3 linked regions of the Homo sapiens genome follow. The protein of the gene in region 3 purifies or fractionates together with the protein of the main gene of each other region. This does not show direct contact. Each region holds a gene or a part of one and is shown on either strand. Other genes may lie near its edges.

The links.
Region 1: the proteins of SNRPA1 (region 3) and SF3B6 purify together in Homo sapiens (affinity purification with mass spectrometry; 5 studies listed by BioGRID and IntAct, with this or other methods). This does not show direct contact.
Region 2: the proteins of SNRPA1 (region 3) and U2SURP purify together in Homo sapiens (affinity purification with mass spectrometry; 5 studies listed by BioGRID and IntAct, with this or other methods). This does not show direct contact.

Annotation. Positions count from the first base shown.
Region 1 is NC_000002.12:24,067,086-24,073,354, reverse strand, and holds the end of SF3B6 (splicing factor 3B subunit 6), read left to right. Parts: intron 1-4,895; coding exon 4,896-5,034; intron 5,035-5,503; coding exon 5,504-5,593; 3' UTR 5,594-5,769; downstream 5,770-6,269.
Region 2 is NC_000003.12:143,004,542-143,011,569, forward strand, and holds part of U2SURP (U2 snRNP-associated SURP motif-containing protein), read left to right. Parts: intron 1-6,273; coding exon 6,274-6,318; intron 6,319-7,028.
Region 3 is NC_000015.10:101,285,249-101,292,276, reverse strand, and holds part of SNRPA1 (U2 small nuclear ribonucleoprotein A'), read left to right. Parts: intron 1-236; coding exon 237-315; intron 316-4,574; coding exon 4,575-4,621; intron 4,622-5,266; coding exon 5,267-5,369; intron 5,370-5,983; coding exon 5,984-6,063; intron 6,064-6,475; coding exon 6,476-6,551; intron 6,552-7,028. UniProt on the Homo sapiens protein: Involved in pre-mRNA splicing as component of the spliceosome. Associated with sn-RNP U2, where it contributes to the binding of stem loop IV of U2 snRNA.

The DNA of each region.
Region 1 (6,269 bases), on a different chromosome or scaffold from region 3:
CACAGTACCATAGCCTCTGACACCCGAACTCATATGAAAGGGCTAGTGACTTAAGAGTCCATCTGAAAGGATTTCTAAAGTTTTTATTTTAAAAAAATTATTATTTTACCACAGTAATGACTACGTATAAAGTTTTTATTTCTAGTCGGAATTCCGTCTTGTATGACTTGAGAGCTCCTTCCTGGCTTTAGGACTATGAGGTCTTGAGGACCCTCCTTTTGAATGACACTGTCCCTCCAGAGAGTAAACCAAGAGCTGGAAATACATGATCATTGGTACTCAGATGGGGATGAAAGTGAAAGTGTTATAGACCAGCTGTCCTTTTTAGGAGGTCTCAGTCCTTTGAGCATCTGATAAAAGCTTTAGACTCCTTCCACAGAAGAATACACTCATGTTGCATATATTTCAGGGGATACATGGACTCTAGGTCAAGAAACCCTGCTCTAGATACAGAATGGTATACAAGGCCAGGAGTTCAAGACCTGCCTGGCCAACATGGCGAATCCCTGCCTTGGGGATCAGGAGACAAGATTCTACTTCAGGCCTTGTTACTAGCCATGTGTGTGACTAGTTGCCTAGCTTTTTTGGTTTTCTCTTCATGTATGAGATAATCTGGGTGGTGGCCTTTTAGCTTTTAATGTGGAAACAGCATAGATTGGTTGTAAGGCCTGGGTTCAAATACTGGCTTGCCTACTCTTACGAAACTGGAGAAAATATTTAACCTTATCTGGGTTTCAATTATCTATGAAATACAGTCTTCCTAACCTACTGTCTTAAAAGAATTTTAATTTGGATGAAATTACACAGTGTCTGTGAAGGTACTTTATCAGTTTTCCTTCCCAGTGTACATTAGCCACTCTTCTGCTCCCATAGCATTTCCATGTGTCTCTCCTAGGTTAACACATGGTTTTGCTGTTGTCTCTATATTCATCTGTCACCCTGGGCAGGTTGTGAGTTCCTCCAGGGCTCGTACCATATATTATTTTTGTTTTTGTGTTGATAGCACTTGTGCGATACATGGTAAGCACCCGATGTATACTAAATGAATAATATAGAAAATAGTAGAATAGGCCAGATGTGGTGGCTCACACCTGTAATCCCGGCACTTTGGGAGGCCGAGACAGGCAGATCACCAGAGGTTAGGAGTTCGAGACCACCCTGGCCAAATGGTGAAACCCCCTCTCTAAAAAAAAATACAAAAATTAGCTGGGCATGGTGGCACGCGCCTGTAATGCAATTACTCAGGAGGCTCAAGTGGGAGAATCGCTTGAACCTGGGAGGCTGAGGCTGCAGTGAGTGAGCCGAGATCATGCCACTGCACTCCAGTCTGGGCGACAGAGTGAGATCCTGTTTCAACAAAAGAAAAGAAAATAGAAGAATAATATAAAAAGTGGTTGTGATTGGTTTACTAGGGCATTATAAAATTTATTGATAGTACTCAATTAAGGGATGCTTAAAATCAGTGAAGTTAGAGAATGTTTCAGAAAGCCAAAATGAAAGGACAGGGAATAAAGCAGGGGCATCTTCAGAAGAGTGCAGAGCAGCTCAGAACCTTTGTGCTTCTATTTTCCTTGTATCTGGAATGGTTTTCACCAGCTCATCTCATGCCTGGCTCCTCCTCATTCTTCAGGTCTCAGCTTCAGTGTCACCTTTTCAGAGGGGTTTTCCCTGACCACCCTAGCTGAAGTAGCTCCCTGTTTCCCTATCTGTTACAGCTTTCTACTTCTTGTATGAAACATTTCTTTTTTTAAGATGGAGTTTCGCTCTTGTTGCCCAGGCTGGAGTGCAATGGCACGATCTCGGCTCACTGCAAACTCCGCCTCCCAGGTTCAAGTGGTTCTCCAGCCTCAGCCTCCTGAGTTGCTGAGATTACAGGCACCCACCAGCATGCCTGGCTAATTTTTGTATTTTTAGTAGAGATGGGGTTTCACCACGTTGGCCAGGCTGGTCTTGAACTCCTGACCTCAGGTGATCCTCCCACCTCGGCTTCCCAAAGTGCTGGGATTACAAGCATGAGCCACCGTGCCAAGCCGAAACATTTCTTAAGATTTATAATTATTTCAGGGCTGGGCGCAGTGGCTCACGCCTGTAATGCCAGCACTTTGGAAGGCTGAAGTGGGCAGATCACAAGGTCAGGAGTTTGAGAACAGCCTGACCAACATGGTGAAACCTCGTCTCTACTAAAAATACAAAACTTAGCCAGGCGTGGTGGTGCATGCCTATAATCCCAGCTACTCAGGAGGCTGAGGCAGGAGAGCCGCTTGAACCCGGGAGGTGGAGGTTGCAGTGAGCCAAGATCATGCCACTGTACTCCAGCCTGGGCGACAGAGTGCGACTCCGTCTCAAAAAGAAAAAAAAAAGATTTATAATGATTTCATATTTATTTAATGTCTTTCTACTGCCTGAATATAAGCTTGAAGGAAGGGATGATGCTTATCTTTTTCACTATTGTATTTCTAGTGCCTGTCGCAGAAAGAACATAGTCTATGTGTTGAATAGGTTAATAGAAGTTTAGGGTACAGGAGCTTAGGTCTAAATTATAGATTGAGAAACAGCTGTTTTTCTGTTCCATTACTGTGATCATGCTTTATTGTATACCTGGCACCTGGCACTAGGGTGACCAACCTTCCCAGTTTGCCCAGTACTGAGAGATTTTCTGGGACACTGGACTTTCAGTGCTAAAACCTGGACAGTCCCAGTCAAATCAGGATGATTTGGTTTGACCCTACCTGGCATGTAGCAGGCACTTGGTACTTTGTACTTTTTAAAACTCTTTGATACTTGTTACCTCTTTTGATTATTAAACCCACGTGGAAGGTAGGGCACGTGATAGAGCCTGATGGCACTGGATACATGAAGCATCCGAAGCTCACAGAGGCTAAGTTACACGCTTAGGTGTTCTTATTCCTACTCTAAGATTTTAATGCCAGTCAAGAAAATTGTAGCACTTTGGGAGGCTGAGGTGGGTGGATCACTTGAGGCCAGGAGTTCGAGACCTGCCTGGCCAACATGGCAAAACCCCATCTCTACTAAAAATACAAAAATTAGTCGGGCATGGTGGCGCACACCTGCACAAGAATTGGTTGACTCTGTCTCAAAAAAATAAGAAAATAATGTTAGCTCAGTGTCCAATACGTGGTAGGTACAGATACATGCTTTTAAAAGTTCAAATTATAATATGGCTCTCAAGGTGTGAGGTTGATAATTAGGGCTGGGACACTTAAGATGGAGAGTCTTTAAAGTGGGGTTAGTGTCTATCCCTATTCTAGTTCCTAAGAAGATATAAGAGGAAGAAAGAGAGTTGCTTTGTTTAGTTTTGTTTTGAGCTTCCTGAACAAAGTGTGTGTGAGAGAACTGATAGAAGAAAGTAGATCTCCACTTTTCAAAGGCGTATTAGCGTCTGCCTTATGCGTGGCACTAAAGGAATAAATGAAGTACGCATAAGATCACCTTTGCTCTTAAGGAACTGAAAATCTTATTAAGTTTTTAGAAGTCAAAAGTCTGAAAGTTGTTAAGACTTGCCAGAGCCTAAAGAACATTCTAAAACCCCTCGTCAGGCCCACACAACCTGACAAAGTGAGCGCATTCATTGACAGTGGCACCCTCCAATCACCCCCAGTACCCTATTCCTTTTCAATTTTACAGGAAGCACAAGCTTGAACAGGGCCCAGACTATAGTCCTATCCTAGATCAAGTCTAGGCAGGTACCTCCTCTTCCCATGGCTCCACTGCTTTTATTCAACCCTATGTAAGGACTGTGGCAGATGGAGAGTCAGCCCACAGTCTTAAACCTCATTCCACAGTTGCACTGGGTGGTTGGAACACAGATGGAGGCAAGGGGGCCATCTTGTCACCCAGAGCCTGAACTGAGTGGGACCTCTACCCATTGTCTCCACTAACAGTCACATGGCCACCTGCTGCCTGCAATTTAGCGTTGCGTTGCTCCTCAAACTTCTCTACCTCTCCCAGAGGAAGTTGGTGAGGTGAAGGAAGGAAGTGGCCAGGAATAACTACACTAACAGCAACCTCGTATCCATAAGTAAGGTTAGCTTCCACTTCCAGCCACCTTCCAGCATTCTGCCCTGGCTCACTGATAACCCTATCCACAAGCACACTTCCACTCCCATCTTTGCAGAAGCCTAGCCCTTCTCCCTAGCCACACAGCTGTATCGTGCATTAGCACTTGAGTTGTATTAAAAATGAATGTAGACCGGGTGTGGTGGCTCATGCCTGTAATTCCAACACCTTGGGAGGCTGAGGCAGGCGGATCACTTGAAGTCAGGAGTTTAAGACCAGCCTGGGGAACATGATGAAACCCTGTCTCTACTAAAAATACAAAAATTAGCTGGGCATGGTGGCACATGCCTCCAGTCCCAGCTACTTGGGAGGCTGAGACACAAGAATCACTTGAACTTGAGAGGCAGAGGTTGCAATGAGCTGAGATTGTGCCACTGCACTCCAGCCTAGGCAACAGAGTGAGAGTCTATCTCAAAAAAACAAAAACAAAAACAAAAACAAAACAAAACAAAGACAACGTAGAGCCAGTCAGGGTGGCAAGAGCACCTGTAGTCCCCACAACTCACGAGGCTGTTCTGTGTAGTAGCTGTGTTCTTAGTATTCCTGATGTGACAGTCAGCTTGACCTATGGATATTTTAGTTAAGATAAAAACGAAGAACAAAATTACCTAATTCAAGAAATTACAGGCTTATCCGGTATATCTATCCATGTTTATTTCCTCTGATGGTTTCAGGTTGATTTCAAAATACTTAACTAAAAACGTATTTCAATTTACTGTTTTTAAAAGACAGTTACCAGTTTAAAAGACAGTTCTGTAAGTCAACTATCAATGCTCAGGTAAATGTATATCTTAATTAAGTTTAACTTACCTCTCCAGGGGGAACACACCTGAAACTAGAGGAACAGCTTATGTGGTCTATGAGGACATCTTTGATGCCAAGAATGCATGTGATCACCTATCGGGATTCAATGTTTGTAACAGATACCTTGTGGTTTTGTACTATAATGCCAACAGGGTAAGTATAGCAAAGTTCTCATTGTGTAGTGATCTCATTTGAGAATTAGTGTAGAACTGGCCGGGCGCGGTGGCTCATGCCTGTAATCCCAGCATTTTGGGAGGCCGAGGTGGGCGGATCACGAGGTCAGGAGATCGAGACCATCCTGGCTAACACGGTGAAACCCCGTCTGTACTAAAAATACAAAAAATTAGCCGGGCGTGGTGGCGGGCGCCTGTAGTCCCAGCTACTCGGGAGGCTGAGGCAGGAGAATGGCGTGAACCCCAGGGGGTGGAGCCTGCAGTGAGCCAAGATCACGCCACTGCACTCCAGCCTGGGCAACAGAGAGACTCCGTCTCAAGAGAATTAGTGTAGAACTGTACTGTGATGATATATGTCTACTATGACTTTCTTTTTTGGCTAATGCTATTGATGAAATTCATTTGGCTGTAGATTGGTAATTTAATTTTGGTGCTTACCACATTTCCAGGCATTTCAGAAGATGGACACAAAGAAGAAGGAGGAACAGTTGAAGCTTCTCAAGGAGAAATATGGCATCAACACAGATCCACCAAAATAAATGTTTTCTACATTTTCATTTGGACTAAATCCCACGAATGACAACTACCACCTTTTTTTCCTTTTTAATTAATACTAAATATTGTGATTTCTTATTTGAGGTTCAAAATGACCTGCTTGAAACTTTGATACATATTGGAATACATTATGTTAATAAACTTGTAGCTTTTTGTGAAACACCTCAGTCTTTTCTCTTGAACTTTCCCTTCCTGTTTGATACCAGGAAAAAACAGTTGAAGCTTATCAAGAATTGTAGGTGCTCCTAGGGATTCTGAGTTTCTTGAGAACAGGATCTCTTTACATTCTTAATGCCTCCAGGGCCCGGTGCAGTGCTTAGCCATCAAAGGAACTTGCTGTTTATTGCATGTCCATTAATAATGAAATCTTCATAACAACTCAGTGAAGATAGGTATTTGCATTTTGCAGGTGAGGAAACCAAAGTTCATGATGTTGGTTGAATGAATAAAATGCTAACATACAAAGCTGGTGTGATAACAACCAGTTATTAACCAAGCCTTTACATTTGAATAATGCTTGCTTTATAGTTAACAAAACACCTGTGTCAATATGGGTACCCTTGTCTTTAGAACAGAGGTCTATTATAGAAATGGTCATTTAGATGATAGTACATTGTTAGAAACTTAGATTTGCCTCTTTAAATTGTTTTTTAATTATTA
Region 2 (7,028 bases), on a different chromosome or scaffold from region 3:
GGGTTTCATCTGTTGGCCTCTTGACCTTGTGACCCCCCCCCCCCGCCTCGGCCTCCCAAAGTGCGGGGATTATAGGCGTGAGCCACCGTGCCTGGCTTCTAGTTTTAAAATGATACTTTATGTATGTGTATGTACTTGAATGACTTACCTTTATTCATAATTGTCCCTAATGAAGAGACCCCTGTGCACTTTAATTTTCTGTGTAATTTTGTTGTGCTTTGCATTTTAGAGCCTGGCAGATGTAGACATTTAACAAATGTTCTAGAAATGAGCTAAAATTTTCCTGTGCATTTGTTTGTTTATCACTAGTCTAAAATATTGCTTGGTTGGGGAGGGGTGTTGATGTTATGTAGTAGCTTTCATTTTGAGAGGAGAGAGAGAGAGCCTGTAATTGTTTACTTATAAAATTGTTAAGCATATTTCCTTAGAATTTAATTTATAAAAAAATTACTGTTTTTGACTGTCAATTGTTTGCTTACTCAGCAAAATTAGGATATGAAGAAAATGTAGTATTTTCTTTCCTTCTGCCATCTCCTGTGCTGGTAATATTGCTAATGTAATGTAATTGTGTGCCCTGCTATTTCACTCTGTGACTATGGCTTTTTTTTTTTTTTTCTTTTTTGCCGTATCGCCAAAAATTGAGTTAGGTGAATGGATAAAACAAAATACTACAGGCTTCCTTGGACATCCAGTGCTGAATTGCTTTGGGAACTGTTTTGATTGACTGCCTTTGCTGATTAACAAAAAGTATCACTTTTAAGAAATAAGTAAACTGAGGACCTGTTCAAGGCTTGTGAACCTTAGGTATTTATTACTGCCAGTTTTCATTTTTTGTGGTACCTGAAAGTTTATGAAAAAGTCCAAACAAAATACAAACCTTGAAAATCAGGCTTTCAAACAGTTTGCCAATTTTAAACTGAATCTTTATTATGGTTTATGGTTGTAACCTTATCTTAAAATGTAAGGTAGTTTTTTTGGTAGAAGGTTTTGTTTTGGTCTGGAAGGTAGAACTGAACTTCCTTCCATTTTCTCGATTGATAACTTTTTCGAAACTTGAACCTGCAGCACGGGTGCTAGAATATGCCTGTTGGTATGGTTTTAAAAATAATTCCTATCTTTCTGGATTGAATTGTTTTCTGAAAGTCCAGTTTTTATTTTCACTTTTTGTTTTTTATTTCTGAAGCTTTGTTTTCCTTGGAAAGTAAACCTAAGAAAGATACCCATTTGCCTTACTGGGTATCATTGAGAGAAGAGCTCATTTAGTATGCCGGTTGAAGTATCTACCCCTCTACCCTCCACCCTTTTTTTCAAGGAGCCATCATTTTTGGAATAAAAAGAAAAACTTGCTACAAGATATTAAAATCAAAAATAGTAATATTACAAACTATTTGCCTCATTCTAGTATAGGTGGTTTTAACATTTTATTGCACATCAGCTGTGAGCTGGATATTTTGCTGAAATAACGTTTTTGAAAGCAAGATACATTTGTCAGTAGCACTTGAGGCTAACGGTAGTGTTAGACATATATTCCTTGAGTTAAGTTTTTTCACAAGGCCCTTCCTCAGTTTAGATAAACTATAGGTTATTCAGAGTGTACTTACAACTTTTCATATAGTATTGGTAGTGTTTTGAATAATTTAAAAAATCATCTTAGGTTTGTTATTTAACTTTATTTATATAGTGCTTGTATTAATGATTTTGTGAATGTTTTTTAAAGATGGATACCTTGATTTGGCTTGGATAGTGGTATTAAGCTAGGTAGCTGTTGTTAATGAGTGGACAGCATAGTATGTTGATAGTGTGGAGTGTAATTTTGTTTGGTGGTAGGCACTTGTTCTGACAAGTCAAGTATATTGAGACTCTGTCGCTTGCCAGATCTTGTGCTTGATGTTGAGTTAGAAAATGTTAAATAAGAATGTACCCATTTTTAGCGGCCGGGCACAGTGCCTCCCGCCTGTAATCCCAGCACTTTGGGAGGCCAAGGCGGGTGGATCACCTGAGGTCGGGAGTTCAAGACCAGCCTGACCAATATGGAGAAACCCCATCTCTGCTGAAAATACAAAATTAGCTGGGCATGGTGGCACATGCTACTCGGGAGGCTGAGGCAGGAGAATCGCTTGAACCTGGGAGGCGGAGGTTGCCGAGAGCCGAGATCATGCCATTGCACTCCAGCCTGGGCAAAAAGAGCGAAACTCCGTCTCAAAAAAAAGAATGTACCCATCTTTGAGGAGCATGCTGTCTAGTAGAAGAGAGTCAGCACAATGCAATTAAGGTGGTGTTATGCTTCCTATAGGAGAGATTGTTAAACTTGTGGAGATGAAAGTTGCTTCTCTTAGAGGGTGAGAGGAGAAACGTGGGAGATTAGGAGACAGATACACGAATGGAGAGCTCACTAGGCAGAATGGTAGTGTTGGAGGAATGTTGCTGTGGATAGCTTGGTAATTTGGAAACTCAGATGTGGGGTTTTCACTTAAAGTAAAATTGGAGCAGCCAGAAGAAAACTAGTTTTGTTCTCAGCCAGCAAGCTATAGGGCAACAGGTAGTGTAGTTGGCTTCACTTTTATCCCTTTAGCAGCCATCAGAATGATCTTTTTTCCTTTTGGATTTTCTTGCTGTCCCTCCCCACATTTCTACTGTCTGCTTTCTCTGCCTTAAAATAAATTTCTCTTGTGTATGCTACTTTATTGTGTCAAACTTCCCTTAGTCTGCCTTTTCACTTCTTCCTTTTGTATTTTTCTTTTCTTTTCTTTTTTTTTTTTTCCAGAGACAGGGGTTCTTGCTATGTTGCCCAGGCTGGTCTTGAACTCCTGGCCTCGAGCAGTCGTCCCACCTCAGCCTCCCTAGTAGCTGAGATTATAGGCATGAGCCACTCCCTCCAGCAGCTTTTGGGTCCTTTCAAGAGATTTTTTTTTTTTTTTTTTTGAGACAGAGTCTCGCTCTGTCGCCCAGGCCTGCAGTAGTGCTATCTCAGCTCACTGCAAGCTCCGCCTCCCGGGTTCACGTCATTCTCCTGCCTCAGCCTCCCGAGTAGCTGGGACTACAGGTGCCCGCCACCGCACCTGGCCAATTTTTTGTATTTTTAGTAGAGACGGGATTTTGCTGTGTTAGCCAGGATGGTCTTGATCTCCTCTGACTTTGTGATCCGCCCGCCTTGGCCTCCCAAAGTGCTGAGATTACAGGCGTGAGCCACCGCGCCCGGCCGACTTCAGGAGATCTTTAGGCATCATTGGTTTGTGTTCTTCAGTTAAAAATAAAAAGCCAAACTCAAGACAAAGAATACAGTTCAGTTCCAGGTTAGGAAGAGGGAGAAGCTCAGCTTCTGAAGTAGTGCTATATTTACTGTTTACCTTGACTGTTATCTTTAGAAGTTGATGATTATTTTAAAAATTGTGTTAACTGCTGTTTGAACTGTTAAAGTTCCGTGCTGAATGCTATGTAGCTGTAGGTATGTATCAGTGGAAAATGTCTGGTTTGCAGTAAATGTGATTAGTGACATCTTAAGCTAACTGAAATCAGCTGGTGCATTGTCCTACACCGGTGCATTGTGCTACACTATGCTGTTACTGCTCTGTTTGCAAATTTATCAAATTGTGTAATTTTGAAAGCTGACAAAATTGTTACTTTTGAACTGATTATTTTTGTATTAGAGATTATTTAATTTGGTGAATGGTTACGCAAGTGAGATCCTTGAAGATTATAGAGCTTCATCTTTTGATGACTTGGAGTCAGGGAAGAGTTAACTATATGGAAATAGGCAGAATGCCTAGGTTCTTGTATCTTTTGTTTTTAAATCCTAGAAATGATGATTTGGATGTGGTGGCATCAAAGACTACAGAAAGGGTAGCGCTTTCTTAGTTATTCTTTTGGATGCTTATTCTTTCTGGGTGAACTTTAGAATTGTTTTGGCAATTCTTTTGCCCCCTTGCAAATATTTCCCTTTGGAATTTAGAGCGGTTGAATGAAATTGTATTAAATATGTAAAGAAATTTAGGTGTCATTGACATTATCTTAATATTGAATTTTCCCATCCAGTAATATGAATCTTTTGAAAAGGTGGCTTGAGTAACTGGATTTTTCTCGAAGTTTTTGTTTTCTTCACAAGGGTTATATACATTTCTTAAATTGGTTTCTAGATGTTTTTATATTTTTTGTTGCTTTTATGATTAGGATGTTTTTGTTGCTTAGCAAGTTAATACTGGTGTATTGGAAGGCAATTGAGTTTTTTTTGTTACTATTGTTTGTTTTTGATATGGAGTCTCTGTCGCCTAGGCGGTAGTGCAGTGGCGCGATCTCAGCTCACTGCAAGCTCTGCCTCCCGGGTTCACACCATTCTCCTGCCTCAGCGAGTAGCTGGGACTACAGGCGCCTGGCTAATTTTTGTATTTTTAGTAGAGATGGGGTTTCACCAGGTTTGGCCAGGATGGTCTCCATCTCTTGATCCACCCGCCTCGGCCTCCCAAAGTGCTCGGATTACAGGCGTGAGCCACTGCACCTGGCCCAGGCAGTTGATTTTTTTCAGTCCCTTCAGCCTCTTGCCTGAACTTGTTTTTCTTTTGTAAGAGTAGTTATTTATTCTTTTGGATTTTTAAATTTCTAGATATTTGTAAATTTATGCATTTCAAGATATGTTTCAGGGTGTGTTTCATAGTTAATAAATACTAAAAATTTTCTTTTATACCACCTTGACATTTAAGAAAGATTAGCCGCTAGAAGAAAATCAGGGTGGACACAAAAGTTGGGGACAGAAAAACCATGGACAGAAAGAGTGAGATGGGGCCGGGTGCGGTCGCTCATGTCTGTAATCCTAGCACTTTCAGAGGCTGAGGTGGACAGATCACCTGAGGTCAGGAGTTCGAGACCAGCCTGGCCAACGTGGTAAAACTCCGTCTCTACTAAAAATACAAAAATTAGCCAGGCATGGTGGTGCGTGCCTGTACTCCTAGCTACCCAGGAGGCTGAGGGAGGAGAATTACTGGAACCCGGGAGGCGGAGGCTGCAGTGAGCCGAGGTCGCGCCACTGTACTCCAGCCTGGGAGACAGAGTAAGACTCTGTCTCAAGAAAAAAAAAAAATGAAAGAAAGAATGAGATGGGAGGGGTCCCAGTGCTTGGTTGTCCTGTTGTCCTGGGCTGATTTTTGCCTATGCTAATGCGCAATACAGTGGAGTTCAGAGGAGTAAATTGATTCAGTGTAAAAATCTTACCAGCTGTTCTTAGCCTTATGTCTGGACAATGTAAATAAAACAATACTGTATGGATCTTTGCTCTTTTTTAAATAACATGAATCTTCAGTTTTTCTCTTAAACTAATATTTTATCTTGTACTTTATATGACATCTTGTCTGGGAGTTGGGGTCAGGTGAGATATTTGTGATCTCAATATTCTTGATTTCATTTGAACATTTGACACTTAAATATATAAATAAAAACAAGTAAAATTTCACTACCGTATACCCTCAAAAATAAAAACAGCTCAGTGACAGTTATATTTTGGATCCCCAAGTAAAAATTCTTGGAGAATCTTTCTTTCAGAAAGATAGCATACATTATTTAGTTAATCGTCCTACAGCTTGTCATCTTTGTCTTTACATGTGTAGTGGCAACAAGTTATTGCATACCATGTATAATCTGATAGGTAGATCACTTAAGAAAAGTTGAAGTTTTAACAGTTGACATCACTGGAAGATATTATATGAACTCTTTCTCATGCCACCAGGCAGCCTGTGACATGCTATCGAATCATCTCCCTTAAAACGAGTTGTAAATGGTGCCTTATTGGGGATTTGATAATATTTTCTGGAACTTTGCAGAATTTGTACCTTTTAATAGACAGCAAGGATTTATATGTGGATTTCTTTATGTGGCTTTGGGTGATTAGAGAAAGAGAGTTCTCGTGCTGTGGACCAAGAAGTTGCTGGGCAGTGCTGTGGCAGTAAACGATGCATCTATGATTAGGAAGAGCTTTTGCATAAAACTGTGTAAAAATGGTGGTTAGGTTTCCAGTGTATACTATAAAGAGGTAATTTTGCCTCATATATATCCCACTAGTGTTTATTATATTTTTGGAAATATGCAGGCTGAATTTTAAAGAAATGACTTACACATTTACTTTGTATCACAATCTTTTCATAAGTCAGAGACTGCCTTTGCTCAGTTTTATTAGCTGAGGAGAAATTGCCAGAAGTTAGGAAACTCTTAAGTTTGTATAACACGAGAGACATGTTTTGTTAGTATAAGACATTTTAAATTATTGACTTTTATTTTTGATACTTGTAGACGAGATCATCAGATGTTCATTCATCTGGATCTTCAGATGCACATGTGAGTATAGAAGGCAATCTTTGTCTTTTTTCCTTTAAAATTTAACTTCTCCTCATATGTATCCCTACATCAATGATTTTACTTGACAAATAAATACAATTGTATGTGCTTTTTTCTTTTACTCTTTTTTTTCTAGGCGCCTTCCTTTTTTTTTTTTATGTTCTGCTTGCATAACTTAGCCCTCTGAAGCGATGTTAGAAACCTAGTATGTATATTTCCTTATGATTTTTATTGTGTAAAAATCTGTACATACATAACGTATCTATACTTATACTTTGACTATGGGATTGCATTATGCATATGCCTTTCTCACCGCACAAAACATATGTTGGAAATCCCTGCAGGTAAACTGTTAACAGCTCTAATCTGTTCTTTCTTAAGGCATCATAATGTTCTGTGGTGGGGAAGTGCAGTTGTTTGTTATTTCTTTGTTGATGGGCATATATTTTTTGTTTAAAGCTTTCAAGTAACATTTTGGATAGATAATACTACAATAAGTATTTTTTTAATATATGTTATTACAGCAGTGTTCAAAGTGTAGTCTGAAGACCCCTGGAGTCACTGAGAATCTCTGAGAAGGGTCTGTGAATTCAAAACTATTTTGTAATAATACTAAGGCATTATTTATGCCTTTTTCACCATTTTGGCATTTGCACTAATGCAAGTGTAGCTGGAGGTACAAAAGCATTTGGTGGGTAAACTGTTGGCAC
Region 3 (7,028 bases):
TCAGGTTCCACTAGATGGTATGACAGTGGAATTAGCCCCAGGCAGTGTCTAAAATCCCACTTCTGTTGCTGACCCTGTGGCCTCAGAAAAGGGTTCTTTTTGCTTTGTTTCCTCTTTATCAGGGTGTTGGAAGAAGGATCTCTAAGTGTCTCTCTGTGATCCTCTGAGCAAGGAGGTAGATAAAATTGTTAGCTTATTTAATTTTCACTTTTACTAAGACTCTATTTTTATTTTAGCCGTATAGGTGAGGGACTTGATCAGGCTCTGCCCTGTCTGACAGAACTCATTCTCACCAATAATAGTCTCGTGGAACTGGTAAGTTGCACAGAAGGAAAATGTATTTGGTGGGTGGGGTTAAAGGTACTATGTGCTTCCTACAGAAAATTTACAAAATCTAGAAAATGATCTCAGTATCCTCTTTCTTGTCTTTTTCTTAATTCAGGATCTGGGCCTTTTGGGTTCTGCAGCCGTATGTTGCAAATATTTTCCTACTTTTACTTGACTTTTGACTTAGGATGTCTTGTTAGAGAAGTTCCTAATTTAGGTGCAGTCCAATGAATCAATCTTCTTCTTTATTGTAGCCCTTTTGATGTTTAAATTTCCCCTATTCCAGGGTTATAAACTCCTATGTTGTTTTCTACAATTGCAGTGTTCAATATAGTACCAGTAACTACAGGTGGCTACTTATAATTGAGATGTGCTAGAACTATAAAATACACACTGGATTTCAAAGACTTAAGTGCAAAAAAAAAAAAAAGTAAACTATCTCAGTAATTTTTTTATATCGATGTTGAAATGATAACGTTTTGGATAATAAGTTAAATGGCATATTATTAAAATTAGTTTCACCTATTTTAACATGGCTACTAGAAAATTTTAGATTACATATCTGATATGCATTAAATCTTGCTGAACAGTTCCAGTCTAGAAACCTTGTTTTACTCTTCACGTTAGATGAACAATCCACTTGGAACTGTTTTCATGCTTTTTAAATTTCTGTTCTGTGTATCCAATTTTTAACATAATTGAGATACTGTGTATTGTTTTGTAACCTAAATTCTTCACTTAAACACTGGATGCTTAAATTTATATTGTAGGCCAGGTGCCATAGCTCATGCCTGTAATCCAAGCACTTTGGGAAGCCAAGGTGGGAGGATCACTTGAGCCCAGGAGTTCTAGACCAGCCTGGGCAACATAGTGAGACCTTGTCTCTCTCTATAAGTAATTTTTTTAGAAAAGCCGGGTGCAGTGGCTCATGCCTGTAATCCCAGCACTTTGGGAGGCCGAGGCGGGTGGATCACGAGGTCAGGAGTTCAAGACCAGCCTGGGCAATATGGTGAAACCCCGTCTCTACTAAAAATACAAAAATTAGCCGGGCGTGGTGGTGGGTTCCTGTAATCCCAGCTTCTTGGGAGGCTGAGACAGGAGGATTGCTTGAACCCAGGAGGCAGAGGTTGCAATGAGCTGAGATCATGCCACTGCACTCCAGCCTGGGCAAAGAAAGAGACTCCGTCTCAAAAAAAAAAAAAAAAAAAATGCCAAAAGTGGTAGCGTGCATCTGTGGTCCCAGGTATTCCAGTGGCTAAAGTGGGAGGATCACTTGAGCCCTAGCCATCAGTCGAGGCTGCAGTGAGACATGATCATGTCTCTGTACTCCAGTCTGGGCAATAGTGCAAGACCTCATCTCAAAAAAAAAAAAAAATCGTATAACTTAATTTTGTGACTTAACCTTCCTCCCGTATTTTCCTGATTGTTGAGAATGAACTGTGTTCCTTTCCTTGTGGACAAGGTCCATAGCATCCTTCAGATTCTCAAGGAGATGCTTGACTACAAACATAAGACAGCACTGGTCCATGGCCATGTCCTTTCTGAAGTGTGTGAAGTATTCAACCCGAAATACATATTTATAGGCAATGTGTCTCATGATAGGTGCTGTTAGAGAAATTAGAGTTGTATTTAAAGCTCTTTGCAAAGATGAAGACTACTGGGCTTATCAGTTATTGAGAGAGGTATGTTAGAATCTCACAGCATGGTAGTGGATTTGACTATCCCTGAAGTTCTGTCGATTTTAGTTTTGTATATTTTGAAGTTGCCTTATTTGATACATACAAATTTTAAATTATTCATATCTTTCTGGTGAACGGAAACTTTTTATTATGTTGTGACCCTCGATCTCTATTAATGCTGTTTACCTTGAGGTTTCTTTTACCTCGAAACAATCTTTGTTTTGGTTAGTTATATGCATGATAAATCGTTTTCCATCCAAAATTTACTTTCAGCTTGTCTGTACCTCTTGTAGTTTAGATTTCTCTCTTAAAAACTGTATGGTTGAATTTTTTTTTTTTTTTTTTGAGATGGAGTGGCTGGAGTGCAGTGGCGAGATCTCGGCTCACTGCAACCTCTGCCTCCTGGGTTCAAGTGATTCTCCTGCTGCCTCAGCCTCCCGAGTAGCTGGGATTACAGGTGGGCGCCATCACATCTGGCTAATTTTTGTATTTTTTTTTTTTTTAGTAGAGACGAAGTTTCACCATGTTGGTCAGGCTGGTCTCGAACTCCTGACCTTGTGATCCACCCGCCTTGGCCTCCCAAAGTGCTGGGATTATAGGCGTGAGTCACCGCGCCCAGCTCTGGTTGGAATTTTTTACAATCCAGTCTGAAAGCTCTTTTAAGTGAATTATTTATATTTAGTCTGTTTACATTTAATGTAATTACTGGTGTGTTCCAGTTTGTCTTCTCTCTGTTCTGGGGCTTCCTGTCTGTCCCACCCGTTCTTCAATCCGTTTTCTCTCCTTTATTGTAGATGCTCTCCTTCTGTCATTCCATTTTTTCTTCTGATGGTTTAGAAATTACTCTCTTTCAATCTTGAGTTAGCATCGTAGGAATTAAAACACACATATTTATAAAAGTTTAAAATTAAATGTTAAGATCACTGTACCATGACCTTCAACATTTAATTTTAAACTTTGACACCTTTACCCTGCTAAACAATACAGTACAGTGACCTTCAACATTTCAGCAGCCTTCGGGTTGTTACATATTTATTCTTTTTTGAAGCCCATCACTACATCGCCATTACGTTTTACACTGTGTATGTAACAAATGTTACCACTTTGTTCTTTATTCCTTTTTGGATCATCTTCAGTGGGGGTAAAACAGTATCAAGCTCTAGAGCTCCCTCTGGTGGTTTTTGTGACATATTTGAAGATGGCAGCTTGCTTTTTGAGAATTTCTGGCTCTGCTCTCCCTGTTTTTATCTGTACTTTTTTTTCTCATTGTGCCTCTTGCACACACACACCCCTTCCCCACCATCTACCCAATTTGCGCCTGTTCCAGCAGTTTCTCTTCAGGGCAGGGCCGTGTTGGGACATGATTTCTATTAAGAGTGAGGGCCCAAATTGCTCTTGCCCCTGCAGCCCTTATCACAGACCCCTGTAGTCATTATTGGAACATGCTGGTCTTGGGCCTGCTTTTCTCAGTCACTGGAGTTCTCCAGTTTGTAAGACGGCTCCTCGCCTCCCCTCTGCTTCTTCCTGTACAAAGGCCGTCACCCTGCAAGCCTTGTTGCTCTCAACATGGGTTGTCTCTACTTGTTCCTATTTTAGAGTTACTGCAGAATGCCTTGCCATCTAGCTTGGTTGTAGCTGGTAACCATAGGTTTTTGTTTTTTTGCTATCCTTATTGCACTATGTTTTATGGAACAATTGGAGAAGATTAAAAATTCACCCTGCCCACTGGGCGTGGTGGCTCACGCCTGTAATCCCAGCTCTTTGGGAGGCCGAGGCAGGCAGATCACGAGGTCAGGAGATCGAGACCATCGTGGCTAATACAGTGAAACCCCGTCTCTACTAAAAATGCAAAAAAAATTAGCCGGGCATGGTGGTGGGCGCCTGTAGTCCCAGCTACTTGGGAGGCTGAGGCAGGAGAATGGCATGAATTCGGGAGGCGGAGCTTGCAGTGAGCCAAGATCACGCCACTGTACTCCAGCCTGGGCAACAGAGCGAGACTCCGTCTCAAAAAAAAAAAAAAAAAAAATCACCCTGCCTTCTTTCCATTAATTCGATCATTTTTAAGCTATACTATTCCTTGTCCCTGCAAATTTTATTTAAAGAGATTTTCAGGGGCAGCTAGGATAAATGTACCTTCTTTCAAAAGACAGTATACCTTTGTTGTTCTTAGACGCTGAAGCTGGCGCTAGCAGGAAAGCCCACTTACACCAAGATTCTGGCTTGCAGTTCCCAGTGTGAATAGGTTGCTCCAGAGTCCCATCAGCTTTGCCATTGTTTTCTTTTCCAAATCATGGCTCAGCAGCCACTTTGAGATTCCTGTAGGAAAGCAATTTCTTATCTCCTGCTATTGAGACAGAAGCTGTTAATGCCAAGATTTTAAGAAGCTCCCATGTATTCATCGGTAGAAATTATTTAAACATTTGTGATGTGCTAGTATTGGGCTTGTTGCTAGAGAGTAAAAATTCAGTAAATAATGAAAAGACAACTTGCTTCAAAAGCACTCTCCATTTCAGAATCTCAAAATAGCGTGTGGTATTCGCGTTCTTACCTGTGGCTATTGCTTGACAGGGTGATCTGGACCCTCTGGCATCTCTCAAATCGCTGACTTACCTAAGGTATGGGAATTACATATTGTGACAAAATGAAGCCCTTTAAAATAACATTACTTTTACCAGCCTTGACCTTAATGTAATCAGATAATTAAAAAATGTGGCACATATGCACCATGGAATACTATGCAGCCATAAAAAAGGATGAGTTCATGTCCTCTGTAGGGACATGGATGAAGCTGGAAACCATCATTCTCAGCAAACTATCGCAAGGACAAAAAACCAAACACCCCATGTTCTCACTCGTAGGTGAGAATTGAACAATGAGAACACTTGGACACAGGAAGGGGAACATCACACACCGGGGCCTGTTGTGGGGTGGGGAAAGGGGGGAGGGAAAGCATTAGGAGATATACCTAATGTAAATGACAAGTTAATGGGTGCAGCCCACCAACATGGCACATGTATACATATGTAACAAACCTGCAAGTTGTGCACATGTACCCTAGAACTTAAAAGTATAATTTAAAAAAAAAGTGCCTTTTACAAAGAAAGATTGAATATATTTCCTTAATGTTAAATTGTTACAATGTTGCAATGTGAAGAATGTGAATGTTCCCTTGATTTATAGGTTCCTTAGACTATTCAAACAGACCTCTTGAGTGCTGTGCCATGAACAAGTTTGCCATTGTGTCATTCCTTTTCTTGTAGTATCCTAAGAAATCCGGTAACCAATAAGAAGCATTACAGATTGTATGTGATTTATAAAGTTCCGCAAGTCAGAGTACTGGATTTCCAGAAAGTGAAACTAAAAGTAAGTAGTAATCTGTTGCTTGTGAGCCATTATAGAGTTGTGTGTTTTTCTTTATATTTTTGTTACTGATTATTAAAATTGTCTAAATGAGTAAATTTTACCATTAGTTTGTAATAAAAGTGGGAGGGAAAATGTTACATCACATTTTTTTCTAATAGCAGAGTTTATGATAGAACTTTTAAGTTGGAGCTCTCTTATGTAATGCTGGCTATTCCGAAGTTCGCAAAGTGCTGAGGCCACGGTGAGCAGTCTTAACAGTGGATTGTCTGCCTAGATACGTTCCCAGCGGAGAACTTAATGTAACCTACTTTCGTGCAGCTCCGTGTGTTAGGATGATTTTTCCCTTTATTAGGAATTCATTATTTTATTATTCATTTAATTGCCTTCTTAGTTCCCTGGGATCCCCTCCTTGGAGCTAGGAGAATGAACTTTCTTCAGGGAGCTCTACCAAAGAAAGAAGACCACTGTGTCTTCTCTTAATTTGAAATTGCTTTTTGGTATTTTCACCAGCCCGGAGTACTGTAGGAGAGTTCGCTTCCATGTCTTCTGAGGAATGCATCTAAATGCATGTGGTATTCCTATTTCCATTAACTCTGTGTGTGGTGTCGCTGTAGGAGCGTCAGGAAGCAGAGAAAATGTTCAAGGGCAAACGGGGTGCACAGCTTGCAAAGGATATTGCCAGGAGAAGCAAAACGTAAGACACGGATATCCAACTTAACTCTACTTCACCTTCAGAAACATGATCTGATCTGTCTGGCAGTTCGTCTCCTACAAAATTAACCAAAAACTCTGACATATTAATGTGGTATTAAATTTGAGTGCTTATAGTCCATGTACATCAATGGTCCACACATCACAAGAAATTTCTACCAGCTTAGCAGAGCAAATATTTCAGTAGTCAGTCTTCATGTGATACCATGTACATCCTATTTTCTATATAGGAAGATGAACTGGATGGTGTTTCTGAAGGAGAGAGTTCTTGTATCAGTTTGTTAACAAAGATAAGATACTACACTGGTTGAATTACTTTCAAAAGCTTTTGAAAGTAAAAGAGAAGCAACTTCTGTTGGTCTAGGTCTAACAGTTATGTTCTTCCCCCTCTTAAGTTTTAATCCAGGTGCTGGTTTGCCAACTGACAAAAAGAAAGGTGGGCCATCTCCAGGGGATGTAGAAGCAATCAAGGTAATCATGTGTTAGGATTCTTGGACTGGAATGAGCTAAGATGGGTTCAGAACACAAAGCTGGATAATAAACATGTTCCGAACATTGCAGATTTCATTTTCCCACAGTTATTAGCATACAGCAATATTTCTGTTTAAGGAAAAACTAGCATAAAGTTATTATTTGATCAGACTTGAAATTACACAAGCTAATTAATGTGGAGGCAGCTTTGTCTTTCTCATTTTCCAAGGTGCATTTATCACTTCGAACAGTTACTTACCTTGGTATGCTGTCTCAGTGTTTGCCTTAATTTTTACTTTCGAAGATTTGCTGTCTGGCAAATCCTTTTGACTGATCAGTAGGGACCCTCGTTTTATAATATTGCCTCCTTAAATTATTCAGTAACATAATTGCAAATAGTTACTTCACTTAGCTACGATTTTAGAACATGTGGAGTGATTATTTATAAGAAGGCCTGCATCTCTTCACCAATTTTAG